2 separate regions of the Homo sapiens genome follow, and region 1 is linked to region 2. Evidence: fine-mapped expression QTL. Tissue or cell type: whole blood. Region 2 holds a variant in brackets; the other region holds the start of a gene. All regions are shown on one strand. Distances are from middle to middle.

Region 1 (4,119 bases), 56 kb after region 2:
TAGTTTCTACCTTCAAATATTTCATTACCTGTTACACTTTGTGCCCAGTAGTTTAATGCACACTATATCATAAAATAATGTTGGTTCTAGGTACCACTGTATTTTGTTCCTGGCATAAAAGAAAAAAGGTTTTCTGTTGCCTCTTATTGAACCTTTTTGCATTCAAGAGATCCAACTTAGGCTGGGTGCAGTGGCTCACACCTATAATCCCAGCACTTTGGGAGGCCGAGGTGGGTGGATCACTTGAGGGCAGGAGTTCAAGACCAGCCTGGCCAACATGATGAAACCCTGTCTCTACTAAAAATACAAAATATTAGCCGGGCTTGGTGGCAGCTGCCTGTAATCCCAGCTACTCGGGAGGCTGAGGCAGGAGAACTGGTTGAACCTGGGAGACGGAGGTTGCAGCGACCTGAGATGGGGCCACTGCACTCCAGCCTGGGCGACAGAGTGAGACTGTCTCAAAAAAAACCGAAACAAAAAAAAAACAAAAAGGAGATCCAATTTACAAAATAAAAAATTTAAAAACAAGAGAATTAAAAATGTAAACAATAAATAGGAGATATGGCAACATTTTATCTGCCCTGCTGTGGTGACAATTAGCAGAACGCAAGCTAAGGTTTGCAGCCTGGAGCTGGCTTTGTCCCTTACCTTGCCATTGAGAACGATGTTCTGGCTTCCACACAACACTGACTGGCGACTGACTTTGTTCCCAGATGCCTAAAAGAAAACAACGGAAAACCGGGGAAAGCAAACTTAATAGGTTTCTGGACTACAGGTTTCCATCAAGAAAGCTCCCATTTGAGAGAAAAAAACATAAAGTGGGGTGCTGTCCACAATGGAGTGAGTCCAGGATATCAAAAAAGCAATGATGGATTAGGAAACTATGGCTGAGTATGGTGGCTCATGCCTGTAATCTCAGCACTTTGAGAGGCTGAGGCAGACGGATCCCTTGAGGACAGGAGCTCAAGACCAGCCTAGGCAACATAGTGAGACCCCTTCTCAACAAAAAAAAAATTTTTTAATTAGCCGGGCATGGTGGCGCGTGTCTGTAGTCCCAGCTCCTCAGAAGGCTGAGGCTAGAGGATCGCTTGAGCCTGGAAGGCCGAGGCTGCAATGAGCTGTGATTGTGCCACTGCACTCCAGCCTGGGCAACAGAGTGAGAACCTGTCTCAAAAAATAAAAACACAAAGGAAACTAGGGACTCAAGGAATAAACTCATAATTTGAATGTCTATAGCTTGGTGGCATCAGACAGACGCGGATTCAAATCCCACTTCCACGCGTGGGCTTTACGGCCTTAAAACGAGGATAATGACTATGAGTATCAGAGTTGTGAGAAAGCAAAGAAAACCAAAATAACGATAGTAACGTTAATTGACCACTTGCCCTGTTTCCAAGATTTTACAAACATATCATGTACTGATCATAAAGAACCAAATCGGCAGGGTGCGGTGGCTCACGCCTGTAATGCCAGCACTTTGGGAGGCCGAGGCGGGTCGATCACCTGAGGTCAAGAGTTAGGGACCTGCCTGGCCAACACGGTGAAACCCCGTCTCTACCAAAAAATACAAAAATTAGCCGGGCGTGGTGGCGGGCGCCTGTAATCCCAGCTACTCGAGACGCTGAGGCAGGAGAATCGCTTGAACCCGGGAGGCGGAGGTTGCAGTGAGCAGAGATCGCGCCGCGGCCCTCAGGACTGGGCGACAGAGTCTCCGCCCCCCAACCCCCTTCCTCAAAAAAAAAGAACCGAATCGTTTTTAGCGCAAGTTAACAGATACAAAAGGCAGTGTAAAAGGGCCCGAAGTCCGAGCTGTAATTCGTATGAACAGGATGGGACTTGTCCTATCCTCCCGAAGGCACTTTACCCCTATGAGAAAATCAGGAATAAATACAAAAGGCCTCAACTGGCCAAGCGCGGAGTAAACAGCAAAGCCAGACGGTACACGGGGCATCGCTAGATAATCCGGGACTAATGGCCAAAGGGACAGGGGTTGGTGGGGTAGGGGCAGGTTGGGAACGCCGACCAGGCCTCAAAGGGACGCAGGGTTGGAAAGAGGAGGATACATATCTGGACCCGCGCACCGTCTCGATGTACTCAGACTTGTTGTAGAGCAGCTCGCCCAACTCCATGGCCGCCGCCTCCTTCCCTCAGCCCCGGATCCTGTCAGAGTCAGTCGGTCAGTCTTTCAGAGATTCCGGCTACTTCCGGCCGCTCCTCCACTTCCGCTCCAGGTGGCCCACTGGGACTCATCGACAGCGCGGCTCTCCTTTAGGCGGCCTCGCTCCACTGCTCGGCCGTCTACGGCTGCGCGTGCGCAGGCCGAATGGTGGATTTAATTGGCCGGAGTTTAGGGCGCGCTTGGCCCGCGTGGGTCAGCTGATCGCGCACTGAGGGTGCGATCCCGGGCTCCCCATTCCTTCCTGGGGCGCCTCCCCGGCCCAGGGCCAACTGGGTCCCGGTGTCGGCAGGCCTGGGGTCGGCGACGGCTGCTCTTTTCGTTCTGTCGCCTGCCCGATGGACGAGCCTCCCGGGAAGCCCCTCAGCTGTGAGGAGAAGGAAAAGGTGCCGGGGGTGCGGGAAGGGCGGACGCAGGACTCTGACCCCGCTTTCCCAGGGTTTTAGGCCTGGCTTTGTGTCCTCGGCAGTCCGAGGGCAGCAGTATCATCTGACCACCCCCTCCTCTTAGGGCTGAGGGGGCACAGAAAATGAAAATGTGGAAATAGCGTGGTGCTCACGTGGTGGCGTTTAAAGAACAAATTTCATTACAGTAGCAGCGCATTAATACAATGTGTAACAGTTTGTAGATAAAGCTGTATCGACACCCTTGCTCCTCCCCCCTCCCACACCCTCAATCTTTACTTCTCCCCCCGGACGGCCTCAAGTAAATCTTTTAAGTCTGGTACTTCCAGGTCCTTTCGTGTGTTAATGTGGGTGGTGGAGGAGGGGCGTATCCCTAACCACCAAAAAGGAATCCTATGTATATTTTTTGGAGAAGGGAATGTTCATAAATGGTATGATCTGAATGGTTCTGCAGGTTCCGTTTAGCTTTCCTGTCAGGACATGTTTATCTACCTTGCTTTCTTTTTTAAGTTCTAGACAGTATGTTGTAGTTTGGAAGTGCCCTCGTTTTGTTTCTTTTTTCTTCCTTTTCTGTTTTTCTTCTTTTTTGAGACAGAGTCTCACTCTGCCACCCATGCTGGGGTGCAGTGGCGCGATCTCGGCTCACTGCAACCTCCGCTTCCTGGGATCAAGCGACTCTCCTGCCTCAGCCTCCCGAGTAGCTGGGATTACACGAACCCGCCACTGCACCTGGCCTTGGAAGTGCCCTTGCTTCTTTAGACTGTACTTTACTGATAGACTTTTAGGATGTTTCCAGCTTGTGCTGATGTTATTCTTATCCTGGCTTACCTTCTGGTGGAGGTGAGAAAGATCATTTATAAGTAAACAAGATAATCCCCAGACATTGATAAGATTGGTGGGAGGCCAGTCTCCCTGGCTCACGCCTGTAATCCCCGCACTTTGGGAGGCCGAGATGGGCAGATCGCTTGAGCTCAGAGTTTGAGACCAGCCTAGGCAACGTAGTGAAACCCCGTCTCTACTAAAAATACAAAAATTAGCCGGGTGTGGTGACGCCAGCCTGTAGTCCCAGAGGCTCAGGCCTCAGAGGCTGATGCACGAGAATCGCTTGAACCAGGGGACGCTGAGGTTGCAGGGAGCTGCCGAGATCGCGCCACTGCACGCCAGGCTGGACGACAGAGTGAGACTGTCTCTCAAAAAAAAAGAAAATTCCTTACGGTTGGCAACTTGTCTAGTAGCATGTTTTGCACATAGGTTTTGTTTTGTTTGTTTTTGAGACAGACTCTCCGCTCTATCTCCCAGGCTGGAGTGCAGTGGCTCGATCTTGGCTCACTGCAACCTCCGCCTCTCAGGTTCAAGCGATTCTCCTGCCTCAGCCTCCCGAGTAGTTGGGATTACAGACGCCCAACACCACGCCGGGCTAATTTTTGTATTTTTAGTAGAGACAGGGTTTCTCCATGTTGGCCAGGCTGGTTTTGAACTCCTGACCTCAGGTAATCTGCCCGCCTTGGCCTTCCAAAGTGCTGGGATTACAGGTGTGAG
Region 2 (4,252 bases):
TTTCAAGGTTCCTCTGGCATCTGGAATGTTCCAGGGGCTTCTTGCATGCCTTTACCAATCAGCCCAGGCTACTTCTGCTTGATTGGCTCTGGGCTGGCTCATGGTTTTGGTTGTCTTTGTGAACTTGTGCTGGCACCTTCTAGTCACTGCTCAAGCCACTTCCTCATACCTTGGCCCCACCCTGCCGTCACCTTCTCAGGCGGAAGTCTATGCCACACTTGGCTTGATACTCCAGTGCTGTTCGCAATGTCCGCCTCTGTGGTCATTGTGCCTTAGCCCAGAGGAAAACAGCTCCCCTTCCTCAGGGGTCAGCTCTTTTAGAGGGCCCTGCAGCAGGATTTCCTGAGCCCTGAGCTGTTGTAGTTTTTGTCATTTTACTGGCCCTGGGTGGGTCCAAGTAATACTCACCCCACTGTACCCCAAAACGCCCATCTCCCTGGACCTTCGGACTCGAGTTGAGTCTGGCTCATCTTTACCTGGACAACCAGGACTCCATCTTTCCCCAGGATCATTCTTGTCAAAGTCCTCATGGACTATTTTATGGTTCACAAAATTACAGTGGAGTCACAGCCAACTTTCATTTAACTTGAATAAATTTGGCTGGGCACGGTGGCTCATGCCTGTAATCCCAGCACTTTGGGAGGCCAAGGCAGGGGGATCACTTGAGGTCAGGGGTTCGAGACCAGCATGGCTAACATGGTGAAACCACATCTCTACTAAAAATACAAAAATGAGTCTGGTGTGGTGGTGGGTGCCTGTAGTTCCAGCTACTGGGGGGTGGCTGAGGTACAAGAATTGCTTAAACCCAAGAGGCAGAGGTTGCAATGAGCCAAGATTGCGCCACTGCACTCCAGCCTGGGCAACAGAGCAAGACTCCACCTCAAAACAAAACAAAACAAAAAACCCACAAAAAACAAAAACAAAAACTTACACAAATTCATCTACATGTGCTTGGCTGGGCCTCCCTCAGGACCTCTGGCTGCATCATGTATTCAATAACAAGTGGATGCAATCCAGCCTGAACCAGGGATAACATTTCTATAGCGCTTACTGTATACCAGGCTATACCAGGCAGTGTTCTGAATCCTTTGAATGCATTAACTCATGAGATAACATTCCTGTGAGGTGAATGTTATTATAGAATTCTCCTTTTATGGAAGAGGAAACTAAGGCAGAAAGGTCTAGTGACAACTCCCATCCTTACCCCCGGCTCACAAAGCTAATAAGTGGCAGCTCAGGGGTCCAAATGCATGTGGCTGGCTCCAGCAAGTGCCCTAATTTCTGTGGGATGGTGCCCCTGTTTGAACAATACCTGGCAAATACCTGTGAAAGAATGTGACTGACTGTAAGTGTTCCCCAACCTGTGTAGAAGCAGCAGCAAAGTCCATCATGTGTATGCAGGATTTCCAGAGGTAATTCTGACTGTATGCCCTTTCTCCCTGACACGAGATTTTTGATTACTTTAGAATTGAGCTTGGGAGGCTTAGGTGGGAGGATTGCTTGAGCCCAGCCTGGGCAACATAGTGAAGCCCCATCTCTACAAAAATTAAAAATACAAAAAGATTAGCCAGGCATGGAGGCACATGCCTGTAATCCAGCTGCTTGGGGGGCTGAGGCAGGAGGATTGCTTGAGCCCAGGAGTTCGAGGTTACAGTGAGCTATGATCACGCCAGTGCACTCTAGCCTGGGTGACAGAGTGAGCCCCTGTTTCTAAAACAACAACAACAACGACAAAAACTCCCACATTTGCTGCCTCTCCATTATAATTATGCAAAAGGCTAAGCAAAGTGATAACAAATATCTGTGTGTGCAGACTGAGCCTCCCCAGCTCATATATCTGCATTGAAGGCCTTTGTGGCCTTAAGTCTGGCCTGTCTCTTCGAGGGTGCTTCTGAACATCTAATCCAGGAAACTCTAAGCAAGTGTTTACTCCATGCCGAGAGTACTGAGAGCAGACACACAAGAGCCTCTGAGTCCAGCAGAGCCAGTGACACAAAGAGGGCCCAGAAGGGTGACTGTCACCTGCAGTCAGATGAGCAGGGTTTGTTCAAGCAGCTCTGTCCCTGCTCTCTGATCTGCCTGTTTTTCCTATGTGTGGGTGATGTACTTCCAGCAAGGCCCTGCCTGAGCCCATCTACTCCAGAAAGTCCAGTGTATACCAAAGGTACTGCCTGCATCTTACTGACAGATGAGTATGAACTCTAAGCAAATAATCCAGAGGAATGCTAAGGTGCAACTTGGTGTTTTCTCACTGATCCCTAATGCTGATTTTATTATTATTATTATTATTATTATTATTATTATTATTAATTATTGAGATAGGGTCTTGCTGTGTCACTCAGGCTGAAATGTAGTGGCGTGATCTCAGCTCACTGCAACATCTGCTTCCCAGGCTCAAGCCAATCCTCCCACCTCAGCCTACTGAGTAGCTGGATGACAGGCACACAACACCATGCCTGGCTAGTTTTTTTTGTAAAGATGGGGTTTCATCATGTTCCCAGGCTGGTCTTGAACTCAAGTGATCCACCTTTCCCGGCCTCCCAAAGTGCTGGGATTACAGGTGTGAGCCACGGTGCCCAGCCC[T/G]AATGCTGATTTTCATTTACTCTTCCCAGAGCTGATTGTAAAAACTGAAGCTAAAAACTCTTATAAAGTAGAGTGTTCTCAGGACCACCGCACTGCACAACTCTAGGGGTGCCATATATGTTTTGCCATATGAATAGTGCCCGTTGGAGCTGAGCAGGACACAGCCTGCCCAGATTTGCCAGGGTCAGAGTGAGACGTCTCTCACAGGCTGCCCAAAGGGAAGGGCAGTAATTGTCCCAACCTACAGATCTTTGCCCACCTGAGCCGACCCCACCCATCCTAATGGGAAACCGAGGCCTCTAGGGGTACCCCTGCTGCCCTGGAACTAACTCTGGGCAGGTTAGCATCCAATGCCCACTGCTTCTGTCCGGTCCAGTCTTTTTTCTGTGGCTATACTCACTCTCATCACTCTTCCAACTGCCAGAACTCACCTTACCTTGAAGTTGAAGCTGATTCAGTGTCAATTAAAAGGATTCAGTTACAACTGGTGGAGGTGGGCAGAATGGCAGAGGATGTAAAGGGAAAACAAAGCAAAACAAAACAAACCTGTGCAGAAGATGCTGAAAGAGGGAGAGAAATAAAAGAGGATAATATAGCAAACATCACCTCCACCCGTTCTTTCCATATATCCATTTAATCCTCACAATAATATTGTGTGGGCTCTTTAGCTTTAGCTCCCCACTCTACAGATGAGAATACCGAGGGCACAGAAGTGAGGAATTTGCCTAAGTAGACAAAGAATCAGTGGCAGCACCAGGCATTGGATCCAGACAGTCTGGCACTTGGGCCCTTGCTCTTACCCACTGCACCAGGCTGAGCATGGGAGGGTGGAGGCCCAGAAAATGTCAAGGTGAGTCTGGACTGGGCCAGTGGCCGGCAAAGGTGGGCAGAGGCTCCCTGAGTCACCACCCTCCTCTCCCCCAGCTGAGCAACTCACCGTAGTGGGGAAGATTTCCTTCAATCCCAAGGACGTGCTGGGCCGCGGGGCAGGCGGGACTTTCGTTTTCCGGTGAGTGGCAGCCAGGAGCCAAGCTGGGGACATGGCACTCACAGCCCTCGTGGGCACTGTCCCCTGGAGAGACATTCTTTCAAAGACTCCCCGAGGTGGGTACAGGTTGATCCCTCACTCGCCAGTCCTGCTCTTTCCTTTATCTGTTTTTTTTTTTTTTTTTTTTTTTTTGAGTCTTGCTCTGTTGCCCAGGCTGGAGGGCAGTGGTGCAATCTCAGCTCACTGCAACCTCCGCTTCCCAGGTTCAAGCAATTCCGGGCCTCAGCCTTCCCAGTAGCTGGGATTACAGGTGTGTATCACCATGCCCGGCTAATTTTTATATTTTTTTTAGTAGAGATGGGGGTTTCACCATGTTGGCCAGGCTGGTCTCGAACTCCTGACCTCAAGTGACCCGCCCGCCTTGGCCTCCCAAAGTGCTAGGATTACAGGTGTGAGCCACCATGTTTGTCCCTTTATCTGCTTTCCCTGAATGCCCCCCTGCCCCCGCCATCACCCACTTTCCAGGGGACAGTTTGAGGGACGGGCAGTGGCTGTCAAGCGGCTCCTCCGCGAGTGCTTTGGCCTGGTTCGGCGGGAAGTTCAACTGCTGCAGGAGTCTGACAGGCACCCCAACGTGCTCCGCTACTTCTGCACCGAGCGGGGACCCCAGTTCCACTACAT

What was found. PIP is the estimated chance that this variant, and not a neighbour inherited with it, causes the effect.
Region 1: it holds the start of DCTN5, and the variant in region 2 is the best candidate, but not a certain one, in a credible set for the expression of DCTN5 in whole blood (INTERVAL, PIP 0.87).

The regions. Positions count from the first base shown.
Region 1 is chr16:23,639,553-23,643,671 of GRCh38, reverse strand. It overlaps DCTN5 (dynactin subunit 5), which reads right to left and starts at 2,206. Exons shown (of 6, transcript NM_032486.4): 1 at 2,082-2,206; 2 at 649-717. The coding sequence starts at 2,129. PALB2 (partner and localizer of BRCA2) reads left to right here and starts at 2,362. Exons shown (of 13, transcript NM_024675.4): 1 at 2,362-2,562. The coding sequence starts at 2,515. RefSeq lists an enhancer at 1,144-1,933 and a silencer at 3,061-3,295.
Region 2 is chr16:23,695,234-23,699,485 of GRCh38, reverse strand. It overlaps ERN2 (endoplasmic reticulum to nucleus signaling 2), which reads left to right. Exons shown (of 22, transcript NM_033266.4): 14 at 3,508-3,592; 15 at 4,097-4,252. Among named protein-coding and RNA genes, the nearest start is that of ERN2, 16 kb to the left of the region's middle. The variant T/G (reference allele first, on the strand shown) is at 2,584.